Regions from separate parts of the Homo sapiens genome. Here regions 2 and 3 are each linked to region 1. The links come from fine-mapping of genetic effects on gene expression. A gene starts in region 1. Each other region holds a variant in brackets. All regions are shown on one strand. Distances are between the middles of the regions. Region 1 holds the start of TMEM115 (transmembrane protein 115). Region 2 overlaps RBM6 (RNA binding motif protein 6). Region 3 overlaps DOCK3 (dedicator of cytokinesis 3).

Region 1 (10,270 bases):
GAGGGAAAGAAAAAAGGAGTAAGAGTCTGAGGCAATAGCTCTTGGAAGGCTGCTTGGCAGTGCGCATGTGGTGGTGGTGGTGGCGGTGGTGGGGAGCTGGGGCAATGGGCTTCTTATCCAGCTGGAGTTACCATGGAGACAATCAAGTCCCTGTCTAACATTGCAGTTGAACGTGATGAGGGGGCTGCACAAGGTGGCCTGACAAGAGCCCAGGAGTCATTCCTCAGAGAACTGCTTTATTGATACTGCGAGCCTGGGCTTGGCTGCCCACTCAAGTGGTCCTGTAGAAAATACCTGGGAGCTGGAGCTGTTCTGGTCCAGAAGCAGTCACCGCCACAGCAGAGGGAAACAAATCCTGACAGGAACAGTCTTTCTGGGGATGGGCAGGGATGTGCAGCCCCAGGTCGGCTCCTGCATTTGCTGGGCCCCCAGAACATTTTTGGCAAATCCTTGCCTTGGCTCAGGGCTCTCGGCAACCAGTTTCAGATGTGAGGGCCGGCCCAGGAGCTGTGGCATCAGTGTCCCTGCAGCCACTTGCTTGGGGCTGCCAGCTGATGTACATTCTTACCTCAGATGAGGGCCTGGACTGGCCGATGCCTCAGAGGCTCCGGGCCTGGCATAGTGGTTGTCTGGAGTTGGAACCAGGTAGCAAGAGTCCTGGGTAGTGTTGGCGAGAAACAGCAGAAGGCCATGGAAAGCCCCAGCAGGCCTTCTTCCCTCTCCTCAGAGCAGTCAGGTGCCCTGGAGTAGCTGAGAGGATGTCAAGGGGGGCTTGGGAGGGGAGGTGCCACACTCAAGGTGGTCTGGAGTTACAGCGTCGGGGGAGCTGCCTCGAAGGTGATTAGACTGGATTCTGGGGCAGCCCCCTTCCCTGGGGGTGTGGGAGCTTTGTCTGAGGGCAGGGGGCTGTCCACCTTGGCCCCAGACTCCTCTTCATCATCATCCATGCTGGGCCAGATGGACTGGTCTTCCACTCTCTTCAGCCGCTCATTGAGTGCCTTCAGGGCCAGTTGCCTGGGGCCAGAGGAGAGAGGAAAGGTCACTCTGGGTTTGGCCTTGGCTCATGCCCTCTACCCTTCCGCAGCAGGCTGACTCCTCACCGTACCACCTAGACTCCTCCCCCAGAATCCTATGTTTCCCCTTCACCATGCAGAGCCTGGGACTCCCCAGAGATTGGTTTAGGACCCACTCTGCCATCAGAATGATAACCCAAAGGCTCTAAGAATCTTCCCTCCATAGCTGAGGCACCTCCGGGATGGGAAGGTCAGCTGGGTGTCTGCCAGACTGCCCACGAGGCCAGCCACCAGGAATGGTTCTGAGGGTGGTATCTAAGGGTCAGTGGAACTAGTGCCCTAGGGCAGATGGGTGGAACGGCAAGTTCTGGAGTTTCCAGGAGTTTCTGCCTGGGTGCTGGCATCACATCCAAGGGAAGGGTTATTAATTCTCCCCCTCTCCTGGTTAGGGGTATCTTGAGCCTCCTGGCAAGGGTCAATGGGGAAGGCTGGAATTCAACACCTCCCTTGGCTCTCAGCCCAGGAAGCAGGGCCAACTTGGGTGAGTCTACCCCTCCTAACTGATGCTAATATTCTCCCTCTCAGAAGAACCCCCAAAGCCACCAAGGCCCTTGTTAGAGCAGGGACTTAGCGGAGCCCTTGCAAGAGGAGAAGAAGGAGAAACAGCTCACATGGGTAGGCACAGGCCAGAGCCTACTGCTTCCACAGGGTGGACCCTTAGAGGCCCCACTTTGAGGGCAGGTGGGAAAGTCCAACAGAAGAAGGTTTACACATGTGCTTGGGACCCTGACCCACCAGAAGGTGGAGTGCTGCAGCTGCCAGGGAACCGTTTCAACAGTGACCACTGTGGACTCCTATACCTCAGCCTCTCTGTGCCACCAATGTGGGGACAGCCTGTGTAGCCTTTCAGGTTCCAGCTGAGAACCAAAATCTCCACCATGTCAGGGAACACGACAAGAGAGGCAACAAGGGCACAGGTGTAGAAAGCCCTAGCACGCTTCCCCCCTGCCCGTCAGTCTCACACATGACAAGTTGGTATAGACAGGACAGTCTTTCCCTGCTGCTACCCAGGCTGCCATCCTGATGATGCCCTTGCCAGTTCCATCTAAAGCCTGCCAAGGCAGAGAGCTAGTGTTACGCTAGTCACTTCCTCACAAGGACCAGAGAGACAGATAGGAAACCCTGCCTCCCTCTCCTGGTAGCCCTTTGGAGTTGGGCGTGGCCATGCAGTCAGATGTCAAACTGGCTGGAGGAATAACCGCCACCCCCATGTAAGCTAACAACCATAAGGCTATGCCAAGAACCCGCCTCTTGACCCTCCCTTCCTCCCCACCAACCTGCTTCCCCCCTGTCCATTTTCTTGGGCCTAGGCAGAGGTTTTTGAATGTCCAGCCAACCCTAACATTCCAACACCTCTCAGTGGAGGAGGGGTCCCCACTGGCCTGGCCCCACCTGAATGGCTCTGAGGGACAGCTCAATTCCTACCAGGCCCAGCTCACCTGGCCCCATCTTTAATACCAGCTAAGGTTAAGAGAGACTTCTGTCCTTAGGGCTTATCACCTATAAAGACCCAAGCTCTAGGGCCCAGAATTATGCCCTGCAGCATGCTGTATATACTTTTCAACACCTACCATACCTTGGGCCATAGTGATCTGTGGCCCTTCCCCAGCTGGAACTCCTTCAAGAAAGGAGTGTGTCCCACACTCAATTCCATAGCCCAGTGGAGAGTAAATACAGGGATAACTGCAGCTAAATTCATAGAGCTTCCTGCCACAACCCCATTCACAGGTGAGCAAAAGCAGGAGCCTTGGCAATGCAAAAGACAAAGCCCGTCCCAGATTTTACTACTCGAGTAATTGCCTCAAAACAGTGAGGAATAATGTTGGAAATGGAGCTGTGGATCTTATGAAGGCTGGGACCACTCTGCTGGCTCCACAGATCTGGGAGAGAGAGTAAGCTGAATTTAAAAAGATCCCTCCTGCCCTGGCCAAAGTGCATTCAGTGAATAATTCAGCTGGGACTCCTGATGCTGTGGATAGCTTGGTTTACAGATAATGAAAGGGTCATCGCCACTCCCTGGTGTCAGCAGGCTCCCTCAGTGGGTCATGTAGCCTGTCCCTGGTTTTGGTGACACATGCTTGCTGGAGACAGAGGTAAATGTGGTAATACCCCAAGCTTCCCTCTCAATAAGTAAGTGGCAGAGAAGCACAGCATCTGAGTTAAAGCCCAGGAAGAGGACACAGCATTTGGAAATTGGAGTGGCCCAGATCACCTTTTGAGGACCCCAGGCCTCCTTCCCTGTCCCTTCCTCACAGGGGAAAGTACCAGCAGGTTGCTTCTGGCTCCCACAGGCCCAATGTCTAGGATTCTGAGATTCTGAGGCAAGGCCAGGGTTCTGTGTCCCTCCACTGGGACTTCACAGCACCAAAGGAAACTGCATTTCTTGAGACTTATTAAGTGGCCCGAGTGGTGAGAAAAGTGCCTCGTGGACCCCAGACACCTAACTGCTGAGTTCCTTAAGGCCAAAGACTGATTTTGTCTTTCCGGATGTGCCCCAATACCTGACTGTAGGTCTCCACCTATGTACAGCGAACACCTCAACAGATGGCATGTGACTCGACCAGTATGCTCCTAGCTTGACAAGATTTTGGAAAATTTCACAGTACCTTCTCCGCTCGGCGTCTTGAGGGTCTGTGCCTGGCAGGCTGATGGTGATGGAGGATGGGGCACCCACATCGTAGCGCTTCACCGTCTTCTGGCATATCTTTACCTTCACCAGGAGGCTGTGCACCAAGTTCGCCAGCAAACCCACCACAGGCTGCAGGATCTCAGGGAAGAAAGTGGCGAAAGCAAAGTGGTCAGCCATGTCCCCTCGGCCCCGGCTATGGCGCTGGTAGAAGCGAAGATATACCCAACTGGAGAGCAGCCCGAAGCCATAGGAAGCCAGCGCCGGGCTCTGGAGCAGCGTGGCGAGCCGCAGCAGGAGCAGCAGCGCCAGCAGCAGCATGGGCATCACACTGACGCGCACCTGGGGCACTCGCAGGACCACACAGTCCCCCATGGTTTGCTTGAGTGCCACCAGGACGCCACCTAGGAAGCCCAAGGCGCCGTGGATACGGACAGTGAACAGGTAGACCAGGTTGAAGGAAGCCATGTAGGTGAGGAGGTAGGCGAAGGCCCCCAGCAGCCCTACAGACACATTCACCACTGAGAAGAAGATGAGCAGCTCCAAGGCCCCCCAGAGGGGCTCCAGCAAACGCCCGGCCACCACCACCGTTGTCAGGCTGATGGCCACGTCCCACACATGCTGCTCCATCAGCCCATGGGTGGCCAGGGTCCAGATCCAGAAGTTGGGAGGAAAGAGGTAGCCCGGGGTGACCGCCAGGCAGCCTGTGTCCACGGCGAAGGAGAGCAGGTAGAGGAATAGTACCGCCGCACACAGAGCCTTCACCACCACGCTGGCGCTGGCCAGAATGGCCCCCAAGTGCTGGCGGGCGCCTGGCAGGGCACGTTGCATCTTCCTGGCGGCTGTCGGCCTGAGAAAAGGGTCTGGTAGGCCAGGGGCCTCCCCGGGGCCTCGTCCTAGTCCGGCCCCGATGGGAGGCCCAGGCCCGGCCTAGTCACTGGCCTATGGCCCTGGTAAAGGATCCGCTTCCGATCGGGTGGGGCTCTGGTCCCGAGGGGCCGAGTCGGGCCTTGTTGCCGGGCCGCAGCGTAGGCCCCTCGCCCGGGACCTGAGGGAAGGCCCTGGACGGCTGCGGCACGCCCGCCTACCCACCCTGTAGGCCCCGTGCCAGGCTAGCCTGGTTGGCGTTGACCTCAGGGCTGGGCCTCCTCCATCCACTGCGAGGCCCTTCGGTTCGCAAGGGGACTGGTGCCTCGTTCTGTACCCGAGTCAAGCCTGGTCAGCTCCCGCTCGGCCTGGCTCCTGGCTTCGACCGTACCTCTTCTCTCGGGGGGCCGACAAACAGGGGTGCTGCGCCTGCGCGTCCCCGGCGGCAGCGGGCTGTCCTCTAAGCGCCTGTCTTCCGGCTCCTCTGCATGCTGGGATACGGAGTCCTTGGTTGCAGCCGGGGAAGAGTTGAACAGGGTTCTGGCTAGAACTACAAGTCCCAGGAGGCCATGAGCACGGACCGGTCCCGTTGTGGTGAGCGCGGGGTGTGCTGGGAGTTGTAGTTCTCAGGGACCGTTTCCGTCGGTTCTCAGGAGGTGGGAAGGGATGAATTAGCATCTCTAACCCCTGAAAGCGGCGGTGAGGGTTCGGGAAGCAACACAGCTCTAGCCCCCACACTTGCTGAATTCCCTAGGAAGAGTAGCTCTATTTGTGCGTGTACCTCTGAGCGAGTGTGTCCTTGTTGGCTGGCGTGTGGGTAGGTGTCACTGTGTGAGAAACAGAACCTCCGTGGTCTGGTGAATGGGACCTGACCCAGGCTGGAACCCTTGCTCTGCCTCGGAGGCTGTGTGGCATTGGTTGGTTAAGTTCCTGAACCTTTTTGAAACTCAGTTTCATGGGCCATAAAATGTAGCTGATGACATGATCTTCCTGTCCTAATAATCAAAGGGGAAAGGGGTGTAAAATGCCAGTCCACCCTGGGTGCTCAGCGAGTGCTGCACATGTTGCCTTTTTTTGTTTGTTTTCTCCCACTTGGAAAAGTTTTTTGTTTGTTATTTCACGTTGCCCTTTTTCCAAGTGAGGTGGACCTGGAGCACGAACCTAGGGCTCCCTCCCGCATAGGGACGAGGCTGGGCAGCCCTCAGTGACCCTCCTCCCCACCAGGGACTTCTGATAACTGCGGAGGATGAGAGGTCTCTCTACAAGCCAGGTCTCTCCACAAGCCTGGGCTAGGCCTGTTCTGGTCCCACTTCACGCCACAGTGACTTCTGACAGGTTGTGTTCTGTGTCTTTTTTTTTTTTTTGTATATGGAGTTACTTTTAAAAAACTGTACATATAGGCTGGGCACGGTGGCTCACGCCTGTAATCCCAGCACTTTGGGAGGCTGAGGCGGGCAGATCACCTGAGGTCGGGAGTTTGAGACCAGCCTGACCAACATGGATAAACCTCATCTCTACTAAAAATACAAAATTAGCCAGGTGTGGTGGCACATGCCTGTAATCCCATCTACTCGGGATGCTGAGGCAGGAGAATCGCTTGAACCCGGGAGGCGGAGGTTGCGGTGAGCCAAGATCATGCCATTGCACTACAGCCTGGGCAACAAGAGCGAAACTTTGTCTCAAAACAAAACAAAAAGCTGTCCATATAATTAAAATAATTCTATGACAAAGTGCTTTTATAAAACACAGGATCCCTTCCTTTCAGCCACTGATTTCAGTGTGTGCTGATGTGTGCATGGCCTACAGGTTAAAAAGGGTGCTGATGCTTTTTTTCTGGGGTCTGGGTTCCCACTGGTTGCCACATCTGGGTAAGGTTGCCAGTTTTAGCAAATCAAAATAAGGATGCTCAGTCAAATTTGAATTCCAGATAAACAATGAGTAATCTTCGAGTATAATCATGTCCCCCTGCCCCCTTTTTTTTTTTTTTTTTTTTTTGAGACAGGGTCTAGCTTTGTCCAAGGCTGGAGTGCAGTGGCACAATCATAGCTCACTGCCACCTCTAACTCCTGGGCTGAAGGGATCCTCCAGCCTCAGCCTCCTGATTAGCTGCGACTACAGGCACACACTACTGTGCCCAGCTAATTTTTAAAATTTTTTTATTTTGTAGAGACATGGGCAGGGGCGGGGTGGCCATCCTACCCAGGCTGATCTCGAACTCGTGAGCTCAAGCGATCCTCCTGCATCAGCCTCCCAAAGTGTTGGGATTACAGGCGTTAGCCACTGTGCCCAGCCCCCAGTTTTTCAGTATAGGTATGTCCCACACAATAGTTGAAACACTTCCATACTAAAAACTCGTTCATGATCTGAAATTCAAAATAGGGTGTTCTGTATTTTATCTTACAACCCTATCCAAGATTGCACGGTCTCTTGCAGGCCATGGGAGCTGTCTTGGGGGTTGTGGATTAGGCATTGCTCTGCAGCCGAACCCTGCAGAGGAGACAGAAAAAGTCTCCATCTTGGCTGAGGCCTCGAAGCCCCTTCATCTATTTAGCATCCAAGCTCCCCAACCCTTGGTGGCCACCTCTTCTCTAAAATCTTTGCTGGTTTTTAGCCTTCTCACCTGGGGGGAAAGGCTTTCTCCTCTTAGTTTGCTCATCTGTGGTATGGGGATACACTAGTACCCACCCCAGAGACTGTGGCGAGGACTCAGCCAGGTCAGTGCGCAGAGAGCAGAGTGTTGGGAGGAGAGAGAGGACTGTGGTGGGAAGGCAGGGACACCTGTGCTCTGGTGGTTACAGGTTATAATTCTCTCCACATGAGAAGATCGCAAAGGTCACACCTTCTAGGGTGAAAATGAACTAGGGCCTAAGCTTGAGAGGATTCACAAAAATGAAGTTTGGCCTATGGCTCCAGTTTAAGCAGCTGCGGCCTCAAGCTCCTGTGGGCCAGGAGGGAGCCGTTGCTGCACTTGTGGTCAGGGCTTCCTGGGCCGTAGGGACACTGGCCAGGTGCTCACTCATAGCTCCCGGCAGAGGCCCTGTCAGGCCCTGGTGGTCTGACCAGACTGCCAGATCCACCTCCCCACTAAACCAGCATCTCTGATCTGTCTTCTTCCCTCCAGGGTCCTGGCTTTCAGGCTCTGGGAGGGTGTTTGTTTTGCTTGTATTTTTTTTTTTTCTGAGACAAGAGTCTCGCTCGGTCATCCAGGCTGGGGTGCGGTGGCGCAATCTTGGCTCACTGCAACCTCCGTCTCCTGGGGTCAAGCAATTATCCTGCCTCAGCCTCCTAAGTAGCTGGGATTACAGGCGCATGCCACCATGCCTGGCTAATTTTTTTGTATTTTTAGTAGAGACGGGGTTTCACCATGTTGGCCAGGCTGGTCTCAAACTCCTGACCTCAAGTGATCTGCCCGCCTCGGCCTCCCAAAATGCTAGATTACAGGCATGAGCCACCGCACCCAGCCTGTCTTGCTTGTTTTTAAAAGACAGCTTTTTGAGATGTTATGAGACAATGTATGTCAAGGGCCTGGCACCTATTATAACTGGTGGAAGCAAGTGCCATGCCCTGTGGTTGACAGGGACCTGGGCTACCATGGTCTTCACCCCCTGCAGAGCACTAAGTGGGACTCTGAGGTCTTGGCCAACTGTCTTCATAGCTACCCAGTCCTCACCCCCAAGCTGATACAGTGGATGGGAACCATTTGAAGTGAAAATATGAACATTATTTAATAACTGATCTTCTGTAATAAACCATTTGAAAATATTTTACAAGGAATCACACACACGATATTTTACAAAGTTTCTTGACTTTTTTGTCGCTGTTGTTTTTCCAACTTGTCTGTACAAAATAGAACAACAAAAAAAGGGCAGAGAAAAGGAAATGGCCCCCCAGTCCCCCAGCCCAAGGTGAGGGGCAGCCAGGTCGGGTGGGTAATGAGAAGGATTAGACCCAGCTGGGGGTTAGACAGCTACCTGATGGGGATTGTTTTGTCTGTTTTTCTGTTTTTTAAACTTAAAATATATATTTTTCTGTATATGTTTATATTCTCCATTGAGCACCTGACTACACTACAGTTACACGCACGCCCCCGAAGGACACAGCTGGCATCCAGGCCGGGTGCACATGGACACCCACCCTGGCACCAGCAGTGGGCATGGACCACACACACACACTGAGAAAGCGACAAGCAACATGACATTAATTAACGAAGCCATTAATTAATGCATCACCCTCCCCCTCCTCCCAGTCCATCTGAGCCCCATCACTATATCCCCTTGCCCTCAGTTCCCCACTGGCCCCCAGGCTGGGATGCCTTTGGGGGAAATGACCAGAATGAATGGTGTGAAGAGCTGTGCCCAGTCCCCACCTGTGTGTGTGTGTGTGTGTGTGTGTTCAGCAAGGGAGGGACAGTTTGGCCTCCTGCAAGCAGGGAGTGTGTGTGTAGGGGTGGGAAGGAGATAGGGAGTGGGCACAGGCCTGAGTGTGTAAGGGCCAGATTGGCGGAAGGATGGCCCAGCCAGGAGAGACAAAGTCACCCCTGCTAAGGCAAAGGGTGATGTCTGGTGGGGGTTCCTCTGCCGAAAGGTGCAGGCAGTGGCATGTGGTCCCACTGGGGGCCTGACACTAGTGAGAAATGGTTACAATGAGCACCTGGAGAGGTGAGGGGGCACTTGGAGGACACTGGTGGCTAGGGGTGGGACAGAGGGTTCTTCACCCCCTGCCCCAGCATTTGGCACTGTTTGACATTCAGCTTTAGAAATGGGAGGACCAGCCAGGCTGCAGCTCAGATTAGAGGCAGGTGGTGAGCAGGAGATGGAGTGTGCAGGTGCCAACCCTCCCACCAACCCCTCGCCCTGTGTAAGGCTTTGTAAGCCCCTACACCCACCCCACCCCATAGTGTGTGTGTTTGTGCGTGTGCCCAGTGGGGTATGTCGAATGTGAGTCCAGTTTCCATCCTCAATGTTCCAGGTGTATATGGGGTAGTGTCTGAACTGGTATCACTGTGACTATCCTGACACCTGGTGGGCTTGGGGATGTGGCTGTAGGCCTGAAAGGGGCAGGAGCCCATGGGGGCTGCCCCAGAGCCTCTCTCCTGCTAGGATTTAAGCTGGGAGGCACAGGCTTCAAACTGGCCATCTCACCTTCCTCCACTATTCTCACAGAAACCAAGTTTGGGCTTGGGTGGGGCAGAGAGGCCGGGTCAGCTGAGGCAGGGTCCCCCCCAACATAGGCAGCCTCCAGGAAGGGCGGCAGCAGAGGCCTGGTTTTGGCACCAGTGCGTGTGGCCTCCCTGTCCCATCCCACTGGGGGGAGCCCAGCAGGCAAGAAGGGTCTGGGGACACTTGAACAGTTCGGAGGTGAGATGTGATTTGGGTGCCAAACACCTGCGGCGTCCCGCTTTGGGACTCCCCATCCCAAGGCGCAGACCAGACTCTCAGGGCCTGGCCAGCTCAGGTCCTTCAGTGAGGGAGGGACGAGGCTCTAAGGCGGGGAGTGTGGGGCAGGAGGGTGGGAAAGGCGAAGAGGCCGGGTGAGGTGGGAGTGGAGGTGGGGTGGGGCAGGGTGCTCAGAGGCGGCGAGAGGCGTGGACGAGGACTTGAGGCTGCGGCCGGGGCGGCAGGCCCAGGAGGAGCAGCAGTTGCAGGGAGACCAGGACGCCCAGCGACGGCGGGAAGGAGGCCCCGCGGCCACAGTCTGAGGTATC
Region 2 (10,270 bases), 300 kb before region 1:
AGCCTGACCAACATGGAGAAACCCTGCCTCTACTAAAAATACAAAATTAGCCAGGTGTAGTGGCACATGCCTGTAATCCCGGCTACTCGGGAGGCTGAGGCAGGAGAATCGCTTGAACCCGGGAGGTGGAGGTTGTGGTAAGCCGAGATCATGCCGTTGCACTCCAGCCTGGGCAACAAGAGTGAAACTCCGTCTCAAAAGAAAAAAAAAAAAAGAATTAGCCACTGCTACTATTGTTATTGTTTTCTCCTCAACTCCATCTGGCAGACCTTTACTCGCCCTATAAGGCCCTCCTCAAATACCATCCTCTTTATAGTTCTTACTCTTTTATTTCCTGCCAACCAAGTTTCTGCCCCCATGGCATTTGGAAGCTCAGTGGCAAAAGTTCAGGGATTTCGGGGTTGGGCAGTGTGCTTGACTTTTTGTTCACATGTTCAGACAAAAATAATTACATTCACATTAAAAATGTCTCTTACCTTATTCTGGGCTAGTGAATGTTCCCTTTCAATGTCTTTTAGATAGCTGCCAGAGACACTATCTGTATCTCTTCCTCCTACCTTGTACCTCATTATCAGTGTTTGAGAAAGGAGTTGATAACTGAATTCTCAGTTCTAGCCAAATGTGAATGGGGATCTCATAGTCAGTTCAGGCCCAAGTTTTGGGTGCAGACTGTAAATGGCTTTGGGACAATAATATTCTATAAACCATGTAACAGTAGTTTTCTAGGCATATTTCCTATAGGAATCTTTATCCAGGGCAAAGGCATTTGGGCTGCACCAAAGTCCCAGATGCCTTGTTATAAGGTAGCTCTCAAACAGTAGCTCATCAGATCCCATCTGCCAGCTCTAATCAGTGGGGAATATCAGATTCTTTTTTTAAGCTTTGAGGGGATCTGGGATATGGCTTGTTTCTTTCATTTTTGGGGGGTTTCACTTTGTTAGATATACATAAGATTTTTAAAAATGTTTTCAGTCAAATTGATTTCCTTCTTCCTTACAGTGTAAGGCAAACATTGGTGGGCACCGATCTTCCTGTTCATTCTGCAAGAACCCAAGAGAAGGTGAGTGGCGAAAGTGGTAGCAGTTTTTATCTCGTGCATTGAGCAAAACAAATTTCATGTTTTCCTTGGCTTTGAAGAATTATCATCCCTAAATCCAAGTTGATCTACAAACCTTTTTTTTTTTTTTTGAGATGGAGTCTCGCTGTGTTGCCCAGGCTGGAGTGCAGTGGCACCATCTTGGCTCACTGCAACCTCCAGCTCCCAGGTTCAAGCGATTCCCCTGCCCTAGCCTCCTGATTAGCTGGGATTCCAGGCATGTGCCACCACGCCCTGTAGCCCGGCTAATTTTTTTGTATTTTTAGTAGAGACGGGGTTTCACCATGTTGGTCAGGCTGGCCTTGAACTCCTGACCTTGTGACCCGACCCACCTTGGCCTCCCATAGTGCTGGGATTACAGGTGTGAATCACTGCACAAGGCCTGCAAACCTTTATTTATTTATTTATTTTTGAGACAGAGTCTCGTACTCACCCAGGCTGGAGTGCAGTGGCGCAATCTCGGATCACTGCAAGCTCCGCCTCCCAGGTTCACGCTGTTCTCCTGCCTCAGCCTCTCTAGTAGCTGGGACTATAGGCGCCCACCACCATGCCCAGCTAATTATTTGTATTTTAGTAGAGACGGAGTTTCACCGTGTTAGCCAGGATGGTCTCGATCTCCTGACCTCGTGATCTGTCTGCCTCAGCCTCCCAAAGTGCTGCGATTACAGGCGTGAACCACCACGACCGGCCCAAACCTTTCAAAAGTGCAATTTGAGCTAGGCATGGTGGCTAACGCTTGTAATCCCAGCACTTTGGGAGGCCAAGGCAGGTGGATCACCTGTGGTCAGGAGTTCAAGACCAGCCTGACCAACATGCCGAAACCCTGTCTCTACTAAAATTACAAAAATTAGCCACAGGTGTGGTGGCACATGCTTGGAATCCCAGCTCCTTGGGAGGCTGAGACACTAGAATCGCTTGAACCCAGGAGTCAGAGGTTGCAGTGAGCTGAGATCTCGCCACTGCACTCCAGCCTAGGCAACAGAGTGAGAAAAAAAAAATTGCAGTTTGGTGCCCAACTTAACGTAACCTGTTAGTAAATGATTTCAGATCTTATTTTCACCAGAGGAAAGAGATAGGGTTGTGGGCTCCTAGGCTAAAGTGGCTAAGTGGGCAGCTGAGCAGAGGTCAGTATATTGTTATTTGGAATACATTTAAGGATTAAGGATGTTAGGTTGAAAAAGAGTCTTTATGACATCAGTCTGTGTGGCAAACCTTTCTCCCACTCCTACTTCTTTGAAGTTATTGGGAATCATTTGCTCTATTGTTTTCTCTTTTACATTCTGTAAGCATTTCAGGATTTTCAAGAGAAAAACATTTGTTAAAATAACAGTAAAAACATAAATAGGAGAAAATAATCAGGATGTGGGGAACATTTTATTATTTTAGAGGAATAAAACTACCAGCTTCTCAAGCACTTATCTTTAATGTAAATTTCTTTAGAGAAATTTCAGGTAGGCAACTTCGAAGAGTCAGACACATGCATCCATAACAACAGTCCTGTAGTCATCCCTTAAGGAAAGCCACAGCATGACCATAAAATATAGTTCAGTGCAGGGATTCAGGTAGCCTTCTGTTTGTTGCAAGGTTAGAGTTTAATGTGCCTACAAGGAGTTTCTTAGGTGGGCTTTTGTCCTCTTGTGGAGATTTTACTCTGGTGAAGACTGAAAGGCAGGTGTTCTGAAAATCTTTAGGGGAAGGCTGTGTATGTTCTAGAAACCAAACCAAAATGTGGGAAGGAGGATGAACAACTGAGATTTTTGCTTGTTAGGTCACTTCAGGTTAGGCAAAGTTGTGTTTTTTTCCCCCCACAAGAAACACTTTTTTTCAAAGCTATTCCAGCAAATGAATAGATAGTTTTTTGTTTTTTTTCTTTTTTTTTTTGAGACGGAGTCTTGCTCTGTCACCCAGGCTGAAGTGCAGTGGCGCAATCTCGGCTCACTGCAAGCTCTGCCTCCCAGGTTCACGCCATTCTCCTGCCTCAGCCTCCCAAGTAGCTGGGATTACAGGCACCCGCCACCGTGCCCAGCTAATTTTTTGTATTTTCAGTAGAGACAGGGTTTCACTGTGTTAGCCAGGATGGTCTCGATCTCCTGACCTCGTGATCTGCCCGCCTCAGTCTCCCAATGTGCTGGGATTACAGGCGTGAGCCACCGCTCCCGGCCATGAATAGATAGTGTATGAAAACCACTGGGCACCATACCACTAAGATGAGACAGCTTTAATCTGGAAACCTGTCACTGCTATTATGTAATCTCTATATTGCTCTCATATAATACCTCTTTTTGAGCCACATGGATTCCAGTGAACCCTCCAAGAATGAATTAGTTACAAGAATGTGCCCCTAATTATAAAACAAACTATAAAGACAAATTATCCTGCTGTAGTAGGACATTTGAAATAAATCATTTATATTTTGAAGGACGTCTGCCCATTATGTTTATTTGCATATAAAGGAGCTACGTGCAGATAGGGTCTGTTCCTAGCTTCACTGGAGGAGGGCCTGTGGTCTTACAGGATATGAGTAGCTGTTTGAGCACTGTAACACTGGAAGAAGCAAGGCTTCTAGATGTGTGTTTGGGATATGTGTTTCTACTAAACCTTAAGTAAGGGCCATATCTTCGGTAATTTTGTCCCCAGATGTGTTGTTATCATTGATTATGATAGTCAGGTTCAAGGTGTCATGAAGGATTTGTTATATTTAAATGTTTAGTAGGTGATATAGAGATTTCATAAGATTACATTTTTTAAATGCTTGGATAGTTTCTTCTGTGAACTATTTCATGTCCTGTCTCAGCTTCACTTAAAATATTTTGTCAGGAACTGTCAGAGGACTTTTTATTAGATATTTCTGAGATAATATTAAAAGCATTCCAGGCCGGGCGTGTTTGCTCACACCTGTAATCCCAGCACTCTGGGAGGCCGAGGCAAGTGGATCACCTGAGGTCAGGAGTTCGAGACCAGCCTGGCCAACATGGTGAAACCTCGTTTCTACTAAAAATACAAAAAATTACCTGGGCGTGGTGGTGGGCACCTGTGATCCCAGCTACTCTGAAGGCTGAGGCAGGAGAATCGCTTGAACCCGGGAGGCAGAGGTTGCAGTGAGCCAAGATCATGCCATTGCACTTCAGCTGGGCAACAAGAGCAAAACTCCGTCTCAAAAAAAAAAAAAAAAAAAAAAGGCATTCCAGTATGAGTATTTGCTGGCAGGTAAGGAGAAATTACAGTAGCAGTGTTTTTT[C/CT]TTTTTTTTTTTTTTTGATAAAGCTTTCTAGAGATTCTCTTTGTTTCTGTTCCACTAGTGACAGAGGCCAAGCAAGAATTAATAACCTACCCTCAGCCTCAGAAAACATCCATACCAGCACCATTGGAAAAACAGCCCAACCAGCCCCTAAGACCAGCTGATAAGGAACCTGAACCCAGGAAGAGGGAAGAAGGCCAAGAGTCACGCTTAGGACATCAAAAGAGAGAAGCAGAAAGGTATCTGCCTCCTTCTCGAAGGGAAGGGCCAACTTTCCGAAGAGACCGAGAGAGGGAGTCATGGTCTGGAGAGACACGCCAGGATGGAGAGAGCAAAAGTAAGTAGTTTGTCAGGGCACATACCAGACTGTGATCATCACAATGGAGCATAGATGGCCAATGTTATGTCCGGGAGCTATCTGCTTTCCAGTACCCTGAGAGATCTGTGCATGACCTGATGACAGAGGCCATTGCTGTCTGTGGACCTTCCTGTACTGCTTAAAGGAATCTATGCCCTTCAAATAGTAAATTGCTATATGAATGCAGTAAGGCATGATTTTAGATTTCTAAGTATTGGTGAAGAAAAGTATGCAGTATTTATTTGTTTAGCATTTTTTTACAGAACCAGCCTTGCTAGTAGCATCTATAGTAAAAAATGACAGTCAGATTCTTGGGACTTCAAAAATTTATCTTTCTCTCCCTTGTGTTGCCCTTCTCCCATTTATGGTTGATTCAGCTATCATGCTAAAGCGTATCTATCGTTCCACACCACCTGAGGTGATAGTGGAAGTGCTGGAGCCCTATGTCCGCCTTACTACTGCCAACGTCCGTATCATCAAGAACAGAACAGGCCCTATGGGGCATACCTATGGCTTTATTGACCTCGACTCCCATGCGGTGAGTTTCCTCCACCTTGGATTGGCCTAGAGACAGATGGCTAAAGAACCTTCAAGAAGGTTTGACTGGGGGCCGGGCCTGGTGGCTTACGCCTGTAATCCCAGCACTTTGGGAGGCCGAGGTGGGTGGATCACGAGGTCAGGAAATCAAGACCATCCTGGCTAACACGGTGAAACCCTGTCTCTACTAAAAAATACAGAAAAATTAGCTGGGCGTGGTGGCAGGCGCCTGTAGTCGCAGCTACTCGGGAGGCTGAGGCAGGAGAATGGCGTGAACTCCGGAGGCGGAGCTTGCAGTGAGCCGAGATCGCGCCACTGCACTTCAGCCTGGGTGACAGAGCGAGACTCTGTCTCAAAAAAAAAAAAAAAAAATTTGAGGGACTTCTTGATCATTTGAATTCTTGTGTGCTACCTGATATCATAATCCCTCTTGCTCTCTCCTTTGGGTTTATTGTTCATTCAGGTCAGGTGACAGCCCTCAAAAGTTAGGATCCCGTCTGGTTTTCTAGGTTCATTTTTTTCTTGTGTCATTTACTGTTTCCAACTTACTCGCTTGTGAAGAATCTGAGTACTGAATCCTTCATGATTTTAGTGAACTTTCTGATTTATTTTGTCCAGCCACAGATGGTTTTATATTTGATGATAAAACATTTCCTCTTTTTCCTCAAAGTATTTATAGATTCCTGTGGCTTAAATTTTTAGTTGCGGGGCCTTTTTCTATGGAAGTAAGGTGAAGATAATGAAAGTCATTGGTATTTCTTAGATTTTTCATGCTCAAAAGTCACAAGGGACTTTGTAAACTGAATCTGATTGATGATAATTGCAACCTAAAAGAAGAGGATTTGAATTTCTGAAGTTTATGCCAGAACTGACATCTATTCTGATTCCTGTTCCAATCAGTCCTTCATTAAAAGTTGCCTGTTTCTGCCAGTATGCTCTTACTGTTAAAATTTTGACAGAATATAATGTAGTAAATTTATCCTCTGAGAAGGAAAATCCACGTTCACTTCTCTTTCAAAGGAGAATTTTTCTGTCTTTGGGTTCTGGCATTTTCTGTCTCTGGGTTCAAGTGTGTCTGGTTCTATAGGAAGCTCTTCGTGTGGTGAAGATCTTACAGAACCTTGATCCGCCATTTAGCATTGATGGGAAGATGGTAGCTGTAAACCTGGCCACTGGAAAACGAAGGTAAGGCAGAAGGGTGAGGATCTCTTGTGCTGCCCCCACTTGTGTTTTTGAGAGGAAACTCCTTTTCCTGGCTGGAAAAACAGTAAAGCATGATGTTTTCCTAACATGGACTGCTTCAGATAGGTGTTTATTACAGTTTCTTTCTGAAGCCTGACTTGTCCTGACTCTCGAATTGTTTTCTTTCTTGAATAATACTAGGTACTTTTGTCCTTTCCCTTTTGACTGTCTGGTATCTTTGGGTCCCAAATGGCCTGGCGTGGTAGCACATATCTCTATTCCAAGCTACTAAAGAGGCTGAGGCGAGATGGGGAGCGGGTTACATGAGCCCAGGAGTTCTAGGCCATAGTGTGCAATGAAGATGCCTGTGAATAACCACTGTACTCTACCCTGGGCAACACAGCAAGACCCTATCTCTTAACAAAAAAATGATGGTACAGTTTTGGATGTGCAGACACATGTCAATACATTCTTGCCCCTTGCAATCCTAGGAAAATGCTGTCCTGGCTTTTCCTTCCCCTGACCTTGTGCATATTTCCATAGCACTGGGAAATCTAATTTCTCTTTCCTCCTTCACTCATCTTGACCCAGGAGTGGTAACTTGGAAATGGCCATGTCAGAGAAACAGGCTTACCAATATGGGGCATATCTTGCTCTAGCACCCTCCACTTAATGGCTGTTTTGCTCCACCACTTGGCTTTGTAAGAGTCTTACTGCTCATTGGGCAGGCGTGGTGGCTCACGCCTGTAATCTCAGCACCTGGGGAGGCCGAGGCGGGCAGATCATGAGGTCAGGAGATTGAGATCATCCTGGCTAACACGGTAAAACCCCGTCTCTACTAAAAATACAAAAAAAAAAAAATTAGCTGGGCGTGGTGGTGGGCACCTGTAGTCCCAGCTACTTGGGAGGCTGAGGCAGGAGAATGGTGTGAACCCAGGAGGCGGAGCTTGCAGTGAGCTGAGATCACGCCACCGCACTCCAGCCTGGGCGACAGAGCAAGACTCCGTCTCAAAAAAAAAAAAAAAAAAAAAAAGAGTCTTACTGCTCATTCTTTCAGGAGTGTCTGGACCACCCAACCTGCTTGCTGTCTAGGTTGGTTCCTTTCCCTGCAAAATGAGGAACAGAGGATTTCTCGATAGGAACTGTAGGATTAAGTACTCGTCAAATGCCACTTGGTAGCAGCCTTAAGAATTGTTGTGTTATCTGTTGCAGAAATGATTCTGGGGACCATTCTGACCACATGCATTACTATCAGGTAGGCTGTAACAGGTGGGGAGTGCTCTATTAAAATCCTCAGGTGACTATAAGGGTGATCTTGAATTTTCTTTAGTGGGTGACTGTTAAGGTGAATGACCATTGGATAGTTCTGTAATTTTAACTTGCCTTTCTGTGATAGGGTAAAAAATATTTCCGAGATAGGAGGGGAGGTGGCAGAAATTCAGACTGGTCTTCAGATACAAATCGACAAGGACAACAGTGTAAGTAACCTTTGTTTTATTTCTGTTGCTCTTTTTTGCTTGACTTGCTACTCATTACTTGACATCTGTGTGATCACAGTTGGCAAGATACACTGTTGACTGAGGGTGCTCATCCAGAGAGAGGCATCTGTAGATGCACCTATTTGTGTTGGTCACCCTAATTCTTGGGTTCTTGATGAGTCTCCAGTAAGGGCTTCATTGGACAGAGACTAACATTGGCTCTGATCTTGTTACCTTTAGCATCATCTGACTGCTACATATATGATTCTGCTACTGGCTACTATTATGACCCCTTGGCAGGAACTTATTATGACCCCAATACCCAGGTGAGTTTGGGGCTTTTTTTTTTTTTTTTTTTTTTTTACCTCTGTCAATGATTCTTTTGAGAAAAGCACCCATAATTTGCTACTTGAGGATTTTATTCCCTGGATTCTCTGGATGCTCATTGCATGAAAAGTGGAAAAGTTTAGATCTATGGAAACAGAACTGTTGCCTATATGGAAAATCAGTGCCTTGTGGCAATACAGGTAAGAACAGTGTTGCTCTTGAAAAAGTGGACAGTGGGTGGTCTGAATGTGTCCTGGTCCCTGGAGTGGGTTTTTAGATTGATGTGGACTCTTCTTAGACTTGTAAGTAAAAAAGTTGTTTCTTCCCCTAAAAGGGAACTGTGCGCCTTAGACCTGGAATTGCTGGGAAACTGAAACATTCTGTAGACTTACTTGTTTCCAACTGTATCGCAGCAAGAAGTCTATGTGCCCCAGGATCCTGGATTACCTGAGGAAGAAGAGATCAAGGAAAAAAAACCCACCAGTCAAGGAAAGTCAAGTAGCAAGAAGGAAATGTCTAAAAGAGATGGCAAGGAGAAAAAAGACAGAGGAGTGACGAGGGTAAGAGGAATTGTTAATTTGCTGTCTTTTGCCACATAGTTATTAAAATGTTGGAGGTACGAACAGAGGATATCTATGTTTGCAAGTGTAAAGTAACTTTAAAAATACTCTGTCAGCCGGGCGTGGTGGCTAACGCCTGTAATCCCAGCACTTTGGGAGGCCAAGGCGGGCGGATCATGAGGTCAGGAGATCGAGACCATCCTGGCCAACATGGTGAAACCCCTGTCTCTACTAAAAATACAAAAATTAGCTGCGTGTGGTGGTACACGCCTGTAGTCCCAGCTACTCAGGAGGCTGAGGCAGGAGAATTGCTTGAACCCTGGAGGCAGAGGTTGCAGTGAGCCGAGATCGCGCCACTACACTCCAGCCTGGCAACAGAGCAAGACTCTGTATCAAAAAAAAAAAAAAAACCTCTGTTAATGAGTATTTTTACCTGGTGTAGGCAATTCCCTCACCTCTTATATCCCAACTCTCTCTTTTACAAATGGGAAAACTATGGATGGTAGAACAAAGTGGCCCAGCTCAAATCCCAACACCTCAGCTCCATACATTTTCACTTTTCTACATTCCTTTTTTAGTGTTTGACTTTATACACATTTCTCTAGTTGTAATTATAGCAGGAGATACTGTTTAGTCACTTTTTATCCTAAGTATTTTTTCCATGTTTCTATATACTCTATTATTTTTAATGCCCACATGGTAAAAATTCACGGTATAACTGTACCTTCATTTTCTTCATCTCTCCTACATTATTTGTCTTCTCTTTCTAATCTTTTCTTTTTCCTTTTTTTTTTTTTTTTTCTGAGACAAAGTCTTCCTCTGTCTCCCAGGTTGGAGTGCAGTGGCATGATCATAGCTCACTTCTACGTCAAACCCATGGGCTTAAGCAGTCCTCCCACCTCAGCCTCCCAAGTAGCGGGGACTACAGGCATGAGCCACCATGACCAGCTAATTTTTGCTTTTTTGTAGAGACAGGATCTTGCTAGATTGACCAGGCTGATCTCGAACTTCTGGCCTCAAGTAAGCTTCCTGTCTCAGTCTCCCAAAGTGCTTCAGTTACAGGCAAGACCCACCTTGCTCGCCTCTTTCTAATCTTATACTGTCATAATATATAACATTTAGCATTTTGTTTCTTCTTTTAAATTACTCCCTATGACACATTTTCAGAATCAGAGATGATGAACATTTTTACATCTAATACAAAATCAAATTATTAGGCAGGGTGCAGTGGCTCACACCTGTAATCCCAGCACGTTGGGAGGCCAAGACAGGTGGATGCCTGAGTTTAGGAGTTTGACACCAGCAACATGGTGAAACTCCATCTCTACCAAAAATACAAAAAAAATTAGCCTACTGTGGTGATGCATGCCTGTAGTCCAAGCTACTTGGGAGACTGAGTTAAGAGGATCGCTTGAGCCCAGGAGATTGCAGTGAGCTGTGATTGCGCCACTGCACTCCAGCATGGACAACAGAGCCAGACTTGTCTCAAAAAAAAAA
Region 3 (10,270 bases), 700 kb after region 1:
AGTGAACTCAGTTGGGCATTTTTCATTTAGGGTTTCTCATTTTGTTGCAGTTGAGTATTGGTAGGGGCTGTAGTCCTTTGAAGGCTCAGCTGGGCTAGGTATCCAAGATTGCTCACTCACACCATTGAAACTCCTTACTTATGGCCTCAGCTCCCAAGAACATGCATTCCAAAATGCAGGAAGCAGAAGCAGCCAGACTAGTTAAAGGCTGAGAACTGGCCTAGCTCACTGCTGCCATATCTGTTGGTCAGAGCATATTCAGGGCCTGCCCAGATTCAAAACTGTGGGAAAATAGATTCCATGTCATGCTGGAAGGGTATCAAAGTCACATTATTGCAAAAGACCACTTGTCATGGGAGATATTGTAGTTATCTTTGGAAAATGCAATCTGTGAAACTCTTGATTAAAAAAAACCATGTACAATGCCTTAAAAGACTACATTTGTATATTCTTGCATAGATAGTGTGTGTTTGTGCGTGTGGCATAGATATTGTATATGTGTATTGTGCATTTATGTATGTATTACATGTGTATGTGTGTATATATGTACATGTATATGCATTAATATACACATACATAATACGTATATGCCATCTTAGTTTGTTGGGCTGCTATAACAAAATTTTCTAAGTTGAGCAGTTTATAAACAACAGAAGTTTATTTATCACATTTCTGGAGGCTGAGAAGTCCAGGATCAAGATTGGCAGAATCAGTGTCTGGTGGGGGTCCACTTCCTCATAGTTTGCACCTTCTTGCTATGGCTTCACATGGGAGAAGGGATGAAAGAACCTCCCCTTTGGGCCTATTTTTTTTAAGGTAATAAATACAAATATTTAATTAAATATTAATAGGAAATTTGGCTGTGGGTGTATACATATATGTATAAAATAATTACATATATATGTATGTATGTATAAAATCATTTTAACTTTTATTTTAGATCTGGGGGTACATGTGTAGGTTTGTTACATGGGTATGTTGCATGATTCTGACATTTGAGATGTGAATAATCCCCTCACACGGGTAGTGAACATAGTACCTAACAGGTAAGTTTCAACCCTTGTACTTCACCCTGTCTTCACCCTCTAATAGTCCCCAGTGTCTATTGTTGTTGTTTTTATATTCATGAGTACCCAGTGTTTAGCTCCCACTTGTAAATGAGAACATACGGTGTTTGTTTTTCTGTTTCTGCATTAATTTTCTTAGGATAATGGCCTTGGGCCTATTTTATAAGGGCACTAATCCCATTCACGAGGGCTTGGCCCTTATAACCTAATTATCTCCCAAACAGTTTCACCTCCTAATACCATTGCCTTGAGGGTTAGGATTTCAATGTATGAATTTATTGAGGGGGAAATGCAGACATTTGGACCATAGCACACATGTACATTAATACACATGATGCCTCAGTATCAGTATACTTCATTAGACTTTGCTAGAAAAAAAACCACACACACACACACACACACACACACACACACACACACCCCACATCCCACATTACTTTTAATTAGTTTTCACAGATCTCAGAACTACCTAGCAATGGAACTAACTTTCTGGTCAATTCAAGTTACCACTCCGTAAGAGACTGTTTTATATCGTTTGCTCTATTCTCAAATCTCAAATACCCCTTCCCACTCTATTCACTCCCAGCTGATGATATTGCTTTTTATTTCTCTGAGAATAAAGCAGTCAGAGGAAAATTTTAGTTCTCTTATTACCAGATCTACCAGCTACCTGTATCATTACCCATATTCTGTACCCTTCCTCTCTGTGAAGAATAGGTAGGTAACACAGAGTATCAAGCCTCCTACCTAAATCAAACCCTCCCCTTTTTTCCCCAGGATCCATCTGTTCATGTCTACTCAAGGATTTAACAGCTGCATCATCAAATTTTCTCCCTCTAATAGATTATTCTCTTCAAAATTTAGTTTGAAATTTTGTCAAATCTTTTAAAAACCCTTCCTTAACCACACAGTCACATTCTGCTACCCCATTTCTCTGCTTTTAGTTACTGCAGATTCTTCAGAAGAGTTGTCTGTGCTCTTTCTCCACTTCTTCCTCTCACAATCTCACTCAAACTCACTCCAACAATTCATTGAACCTGCACATTGTGCACATGTACCCTAAAACTTAAAGTATAATAATAATAAAATAAAATAAGACATCTATTGCATATAAAAAAAAAGAAACTGTTCCTGTAGAGGTCAGTGACAGCCACCACAATGCCAAATCCCCTGGCCAATTCTCAGTTCATATTTATTTAACCCCCCAGTGCCTTTGACAAAGTCCTCCTTAAAATCCAGTTTTCTAAAATTTTCTCCCATTCTGTAGGTTGCCTGTTCACTCTGATGGTAGTTTCTTTTGCTGTGCAAAAGCTCTTTAGTTTAATTAGATCCCATTTGTCAATTTTGGCTTCTGTTGCCATTGCTTTTGGTGTTTTATACGTGAAGTCCTTGCCCATGCCTGTGTCCTGAATGGTACTGCCTAGGCTTTCTTCTAGGGTTTTTATGGTTTTAGGTCAACACTTAAGTCTTTAATCCATCTTGAATTAATTTTTGTATAAGGTGTAAGGAAGGGATCCAGTTTCAGCTTTCTACATATTGCTAGCCAGTTTTCCCAGCACCATTTATTAAATAGGGAATCCTTTCCCCATTTCTTGTTTTTGTCAGGTTTGTCAAAGATCAGATGGTTGTAGATAAGCAGCATTATTTCTGAGGGCTCTGTTCTGTTCCATTGGTCTATATCTCTGTTTTGGTACCAGTACCATGCTGTTTTGGTTACTGTAGCCTTGTAGTATAGTTTGAAGTCAAGGGCTAATATCCAGAATCTACAGTGAACTCAAACAAATTTACAAGAAAAAAACAAACAACCCTATCAACAAGTGGGCAAAGGATATGAACAGACACTTCTCAAAAGAAGACATTTATGCAGCCAACAGACACATGAAAAAATGCTCTTCATCACTGGCCATCAGAGAAATGCAAATCAAAACCACAATGAGATACCATCTCACACCAGTTAGAATGGCGATCATTAAAAAGTCAGGAAACAACAGGTGCTGGAGAGGATGTGGAGAAATAGGAACACTTTTACACTGTTGGTGGCACTGTAAACTAGTTCAACCATTGTGGAAGTCAGTGTGGCGATTCCTCAGGGATCTAGAACTTGAAATACCATTTGACCCAGCCATCCCATTACTGTATATATACCCAAAGGATTATAAATCATGCTGCTATAAAGACACATACACACGTGTGTTTATTGCGGCACTATTCACAATAGCAAAGACTTGGAACCAACCCAAATGTCCAACAGTGATAGACTGGATTAAGAAAATGTGGCACATATACACCATTGAATACAATGCAGCCATAAAAAATGATGAGTTCATGTCCTTTGTAGGGACATGGATGAAGCTGGAAACCACCATTCTCAGCAAACTATTGCAAGGACAAAAAACCAAACACCGCATGTTCTCACTCATAGATGGGAATTGAACAATGAGAACACATCGACATAGGAAGGGGAACATCACACACCGGGGCCTGATGTGGGGTGGGGAGAGGGGGGAGGGATAGCATTTGGAGATATACCTAACATTAAATGACAAGTTACTGGGTACAGCACACCAACATGGCAGATGTATACATATGTAATTAACCTGCACGTTGTGAACATGTACCCTAAAACTTAAAGTATAATAAAAAAAAAAGCCATGAAAAGAAAAATCCAGTTTTCATTTGGCTTTCATGACACATACTCTCCTGCTTTTCCTCTCACCTCACTGCTTACTCCTTCTAGTTTCCTCTGCTAAATACTTCTCACTTTCCTAACCTCTGAATGTTGGAAATCAGTGTCAGACTTAGCATGTCCAAAATTAAACTTAGTTTCCTTCTTCCAGGCATGCTTTCCAGGCCACAAAACAAGAGTGATACTTTACTCTGTTCATAACCCACATCTAGTCCGTCAGCAAATTCTGGCACCTCTACCTACAAAACATGTCAAAACTTCAAGCCCTTCTTAACATCAGCATTCTTACCTTCATCCAAGCAGCTGTTATGCTGTGAACTGTTGCACTAAATAGCCTCCTGACTGGAATCCCTGCCTTCCTCTTTGCCTTTTTATGGTTTATCTTCAATAGAGCACTCAGAGTGATGCTTTCGAGACTTAAGTCATATCACATCACTCTTCTGCTCCAAATCTCCAGTAACTTCCCATCTTGCTTAGAATAAAAGCCAAAGCCTTAAGGTGGTTTACAAAATCTGTGTTTAACCTGGTGCCTGCTGCCTGTCTGCATCATCAATCTTCCCTTTCTCAAGACACACTGACCCTGTTTTTCCTGAACATGCCATGTTTACTTCCACCTCAAGGCCTTTGCACTTGTTTCTTATGCCTGAATAATGTCCCCAGTTTTCTTAAATGTTGCCACCTTACTTCATTCAGGTGTATTCTCAAAGTTCAGCTCCCAAAAAGTCTTTCCCTGACCACTCCACCTAAAGCAGTACCTTCCCCAGTGCCCCAGCCAGCCTACCCTTGGCCACTCTGATTTTTCTTTTTATAATTTATCACCATCATTAATGATTTGCCTATTGCCTGCTCTCTAGATCAAAAGTGCCATGAGAGCAGGGACTTTTGATCACAACAAAGTGTTAGTACTCAAGAGGTGCTGCACAAGCATTTGTTAATTGGATGAATGAATGAATGCTTGTGGATGTATACATGCAATGGACTATCATATAGGCTTTGATGGGAAAATAATAATTCAAACTTTCTGTTTTATACTTAAACAGGTGATTTTGTTTTATCAATATGAAACGTATGTGTTGGAAACAAATATCACATTGCCTTTATGGCTTAATCGTCAAGATTCCAATTTTCCAGATGGTATAGTTTGCTTGGGCTTTGCTGGTTTTTGAGCTGGCAGGAATTTGTGAGTTCTCACCTTTTTCCAGCATTGTGTACCATCAGGATGCTTAACTTTTCTTCATCAGTTCATCGATTAAAGAAAGGAGAAGTTAGAGTATATGATTCCTAACATCTTCTAGTTAAAAATAATTTCTCTTTAAGATGAATCTTTAAAAGTCTAATGGGGCCAGGTGTGGTGGCTCATGTCTCTAATCCCAGCACTTTAGGGGGCTGAAGCAAGAGGATTACTTGGACCTGAGAGTTTGAGATCAGCCTGGGCAACATATCAAGACTCTAT[C/CAA]AAAAAAAAAAAATATTAGCCAGGCCTGTAATCCGAGCCACTCAGGAGGCTGAGTTGAGGGGATTGCTCAAGCCCAGGAGTTGGAGACTGCAGTGAGCTGATTATATTACTGCACTCCAACCTGGGAGAGAGTGAGATCCTGTCTCTTAATAGAAAAAAGTCACATTAGATGATTTCTAAGTAGTATGATATTCTGAATGTTTTAGTTATAAGATCACTGCCACCTCAAAACACTACCTGATTCTACTGTTTTGTGATTTGCTGTATAGCTAATTTTATTTATAGCTTCTTTGACTTGAGCTTATTTTGGCAAACATCTTTTTTAGGGTAAATCTCATACAGATATTTTACTAACATCTTAATCTGCCTTCAGAAGCATTATTTATAGATCAGTTACATCCCAAGAATTTTAATTATACAGAAACCAAAATATTCTAAAATCAAGATTTCACATATCAGCAAATAGGACTTGAGTTTTTAAACTCATACATTATTTTTAAGTACATCTTTTTTCTGAAGCATCTATTCTCATGACACTTATATTTTTCTACTTTTAAGGTTAAAACTACTACCAGGTCCATAATTAAGTTTGTTAAGATGTTTCCGTTTAACTCTTACAAAGGTGACAATTTTTATTAAACTGAAAAGACTGGAAATCTGTTACACCAGAGGGAGTCGGGGAAGGACACACCGTTTAGAAAAGCTAATTAGAAAATCAGATGAGGCCTAGAAATCAGGAGTGAATTTCACTCCAGGGACTGTGGCTTTATATTGAAACATTAGTTGCTTCAAAATAGGGCAAATGATTCTTCCTCTCCCAACTTGGATATCTCTCCTGGAGAAACCAGAGTTATTGCTGGATGGTTGAAATTTTTGCTTTTATGTGAACTGCAACTTCTGTGAGGGAAAGCAGCTCTGGGCTCCTGTGTAACATTCTGTTCTAAGTTTAGTAACTTTGATTTACTAAAGAAATGAATAATCTAGGATGTGGTAGAGATAAATGCTACTTTTGCATGATCCAAATCAATTATGTTACTTTGTTGGATGTCACTACGTAGAGATTTTTGGATAGAAGGAGGTAATGACTTTCAGACTTTAAAATTAAGTTCCTCTTTATATTACCTTAGTAGTTCAGAGAAATGAGCACTTTTCATAGTTTAACTATTTCTCTTTTTCTTTTCATTCCTTTTCCATGTCTCTTGTATTTCACCCAACACCAAAAATGCCCTTTCAGAAACACAAAGTAGATCTTTTCTACAAACTACGCCATGTGATGAATGAACTTATTGACCTGCGAAGGCAGCTACTGTCTGGTCACCTGACTCAGGATCAGGTGCGGGAGGTTAAGCGGCACATCACCGTGCGCCTGGACTGGGGTAATGAGTAAGTATGAAAATTGTTTGGGTATCTCTCAGTTTCATTTATGATAACTCAGTCTTCAGGGAGTTTGCACCTATACAAAGCTTCTCTTTAATGATTCAAAGGCAATGTTATATTCTTCACTAAGCTTTCATCATTTTTGCTAGGAGCAGTTATTTGTCCTAGTTAGCGAAGGATACTCACTGGTTCTAGTTGCTGAACCTCTTTTAGCCTCTGTTTTTGCTTCTGAAAAGAAGAGGTAAATAATAGGACTAGATTATCCTATAAAGTTAAATTTCTTTGACCTCAGATTTCTTGATTCTACACCTCCTAATCAGAATACACTTGAAAATATATTTTAGTGCTTTCTTCAAATGTGAATTTAGTGTCCTTCACATTTTATAGCCATACAATGAATCTGAATGAGCATAACCTACAAATGGAAACTGTCTACATTTGTACTTCAGAATATTTTTGACTACCTTGTCATTCAGTAATAGTCTTGCATTTATGTAATAACTATGATTTGCTATTGCCATACAAGTACAATTTGAAGACTTTGGTATGGGAAGTTAGGGTATAATTTTCAGTGAATATAATTGATATATCAATAATTGATATAATAATTAATATAACTTTATAATTGATATAAATTTCAGGTGCTTTTGTCTCATTCTCTTAAAATTGGGTCCATTGAACTTTTAAGTGACCAGGTTGCCTCCTACTTAAAATATACATATACCTTAAGTATATTTATATGTGTGTCTTTAGCTCCTTATCCTTTTTGGGAGGGGCCCACCAATAAATGAAATCTATGAGCCCATTTCTGGAAGCCGGAAAGTAGATGAAAGATTAATGACAGAGTAAATCCATTATATGTGGAGGAAACCTTAGTTAATGAGAGAGTCAGTCTGCCCCACAGCTCCCAGAATCATAGAAGGTGGGATAGGTCTTGAAGCTTTGAAAAGGACTTGGCTTAAAAGAGTGTCTAAGGAACAGTCTACCCCAATCAATGAGCAGAAACCTGGCCAGGTATTTCCTCTTCAGATAAACAAATATAAAAAATGGCTACCGGGGAAAAACTGGGCAACAGGAGTGTGAACTGGGACTTTCTTGCAAAACTCTCCACATTCTGGCATTTAAGGACTTTAAAGTATAATGAGCAGATTGCTCCCGCTTACCAGAAAGGGAAACTTGCCAGTCACCTACCCATGTACAAAAAAACTCTACAATTCTTCTGCTATCTTTTAAGTTTGAATGGACAATCAGGTATCACCAGATGTTTGAAGAAAAGCTTCTACAAGACAGAGAGAGACCAAGATTAACAAAACACCTGTACACAAAGAAAGTAACCTGTCCCCAGAGCAAATTGAGATTGATAAAGTACTTTAAAACAAAACAAAACAAAAACACTTTAATATCCTCAAATCGAATCTAAAAGATCCACTATGTAGAATAAGATGCCATGTAAAAGAAGTGGAGAATGTAATTTCCAAAATAAAATACTCAGAGAAGACAAATTTTATGTAATCCCTAGGAAAATAAGACAAATATATAGGCAATACATGAGGAAAGAAATTCAGTACAAAGGCTCTACCCAGGGAGGTCCAATATCAAACATTTTGCCTTCCAAAAAAAGAACGGGGGAAATTCTGAAGGAATAATAGAAAATTTGTCAGAGCCAAAAAACAGGAATATTAAGATTGAAAGCGTCCCACTAAATATTTATAATGAATGGAAAAACAAAACAAACAAACAAAAACTCACAACGAGGCACATTAAGATAGCTTAGTATTCTAGGAATGAAGAGAAGACTATTTAAGGGTTTTAGACAGAAAAATAGTTCCTCTCACAAAAGAATAAGTATCATACTGTCCTCAAAAGTGTTATCATTAGCACTGGATGCTAGGAGATAATGAAATAATATGTTCAGAGTTCTGTAGGGAAATGATTTGCCAGCCAGAGTTTTATTTTACAAATCCCAACCATCTAATTAAGTGAGAGGGGACACAAACCATAAAGCCATTTTTAGGTATTCAGGGATGCACGAAAGTTCCCTCTCATGACCCCTTCTTAAGAAGGGACTTGCGGATGTGCTTCTGCAAAGTAGAAGAATAAATCAGGAAAGAGGAAACATGGAATCTAATCAACAGTAGATCACACCCAAATTGGTAGTGTTCATCAGTAGAAAAGAGGAAATATAACACTAAATTCGTTGTTTGTGACCTTTTTGAAGCCACAACTTTATATCTTTGTTTGTTTTGTTTAATTACACCCTATCATGACTGTTAGTAGGATTGCTTGGCACCTACCACAGACTACCTTCTATAATAGTGTATAACATGAATTTAGGTGTACCATAGATCAGTGTTCCCTAAATCTAACTTTGGGGAATAACAATTTAGTAAAATACAGTATGTTGATGTACAGCATAGCTACTAATTCTGCCTCTTCAAACCCAAACATTTTTATGTTATGAAATTATGTCACTTTTTATTTTTAAGTCAATGATAAGAATACAGTAATTGCAAATATAACATTACTGTGTGCCAAGCAAATTGGTCACAGTTGAACTGATGACACTAATAAATGTGTAATTCATTATGTTGCAGTTTAACTGCAACTATAGATTCCATTAAATAGAACTATTTCAGAACTATCAGTACCTATACCTCTTTATTATGAAACTTGAAAAACAAACCAATCTGATTTTGCAATCAAATCTGAAAATAAATAGATGATAGCTTAGAAACAAGTTCAAATTGTACTTGAAAAAGGCTCAGAACATTATAAATACCTGCCAGTAAATTACAGGGCTATTCCAATTTCATGACTTTTTCTCAATGAAATATGTTTGTGTGTGTGTGTGTGTGTGTGTGTGTGTGCGCGCGCGTTGGAGGGGTATGTATATGCATATCTTAATAAGCAAAAATGAAAAACACAGTTCCATTCCCCTCCCCACTTCCCTTCTCCCTCTTTCCTATTTCTCCTTTTCTCCCTTCCCTACTTTCCGTCTTCTTTTCTTCTCCTTTCTTCCTCCCCTTGCACTTCTTTCCCCCACCCCTCTCTTCCTTTTTTTCTTATTTTCTCCTTTCCTTCAGTGGAAAATATAGTCACTTAAAAACCTAAACAAGAACTTTGCAGGTCTGTCATTATTGAAAGGAAAAGACATGTTGCACCAAAACTGATAGGACTGTTCTTTCTGATTTCTCCTTGAGCTTACTCTTTTAAAACTTTTCTTCCTATTTTGAAAGAAAAGATGGTATATTGTAAAAACAAAGTCATTTCATACCATTAGATTATGTAAAACAGACTGTTCCACACAAAAGCTGAGAACAGATGACTATAACCATTGTTCCCATTTTATTCTGATAGTTCCACACTTCTTGTTCCACCACACTTTTATAAATGCCATAAAATCTTGAAGTTTAGCACATGTTAGCATGTGAATCAGTGTTTTCCAAATGTATTTTAATGTTTTAATTGATGTAATTAAATATATGATTTTAAACTCTTATGCCTTTTCTCTAAGCTCTTACACAGACATTATAGCTCTGCCTTTTCAGAATCTATTTCAGAAACTAGTAATTGTTATTAGTAGTGTATTGATTAAATATGTCTACATCACTATGGCAAGTACATGGTCTCACTTCATGCACTGTTGTAACGAAATGCTACTATGCCTTGGCCGGGCGCGGTGGCTCA

What was found. PIP is the estimated chance that this variant, and not a neighbour inherited with it, causes the effect.
Region 2: its variant is fine-mapped to the expression of TMEM115 in whole blood (INTERVAL, PIP above 0.99).
Region 3: its variant is fine-mapped to the expression of TMEM115 in whole blood (INTERVAL, PIP above 0.99).

The regions. Positions count from the first base shown.
Region 1 is chr3:50,354,534-50,364,803 of GRCh38, forward strand. TMEM115 (transmembrane protein 115) reads right to left here and starts at 4,988. Exons shown (of 2, transcript NM_007024.5): 1 at 3,680-4,988; 2 at 217-1,014. The coding sequence starts at 4,530. The coding sequence ends at 810. It overlaps CACNA2D2 (calcium voltage-gated channel auxiliary subunit alpha2delta 2), which reads right to left. Exons shown (of 38, transcript NM_006030.4): 38 at 8,080-10,270. The coding sequence ends at 10,133. It overlaps LOC127898564 (CYB561D2-LOC101928965), which reads left to right. Exons shown (of 5, transcript NR_183066.1): 3 at 3,585-4,143. RefSeq lists enhancers at 4,291-5,181, 4,908-5,207, 10,035-10,270.
Region 2 is chr3:50,053,336-50,063,605 of GRCh38, forward strand. RBM6 (RNA binding motif protein 6) reads left to right here. Exons shown (of 21, transcript NM_005777.3): 8 at 1,000-1,060; 9 at 4,393-4,668; 10 at 5,067-5,227; 11 at 6,314-6,411; 12 at 7,621-7,663; 13 at 7,805-7,886; 14 at 8,127-8,212; 15 at 8,627-8,773. Among named protein-coding and RNA genes, the nearest start is that of RBM5, 30 kb to the right of the region's middle. The variant C/CT (reference allele first, on the strand shown) is at 4,335.
Region 3 is chr3:51,058,008-51,068,277 of GRCh38, forward strand. It overlaps DOCK3 (dedicator of cytokinesis 3), which reads left to right. Exons shown (of 53, transcript NM_004947.5): 6 at 6,441-6,589. Among named protein-coding and RNA genes, the nearest start is that of MANF, 320 kb to the right of the region's middle. The variant C/CAA (reference allele first, on the strand shown) is at 5,207.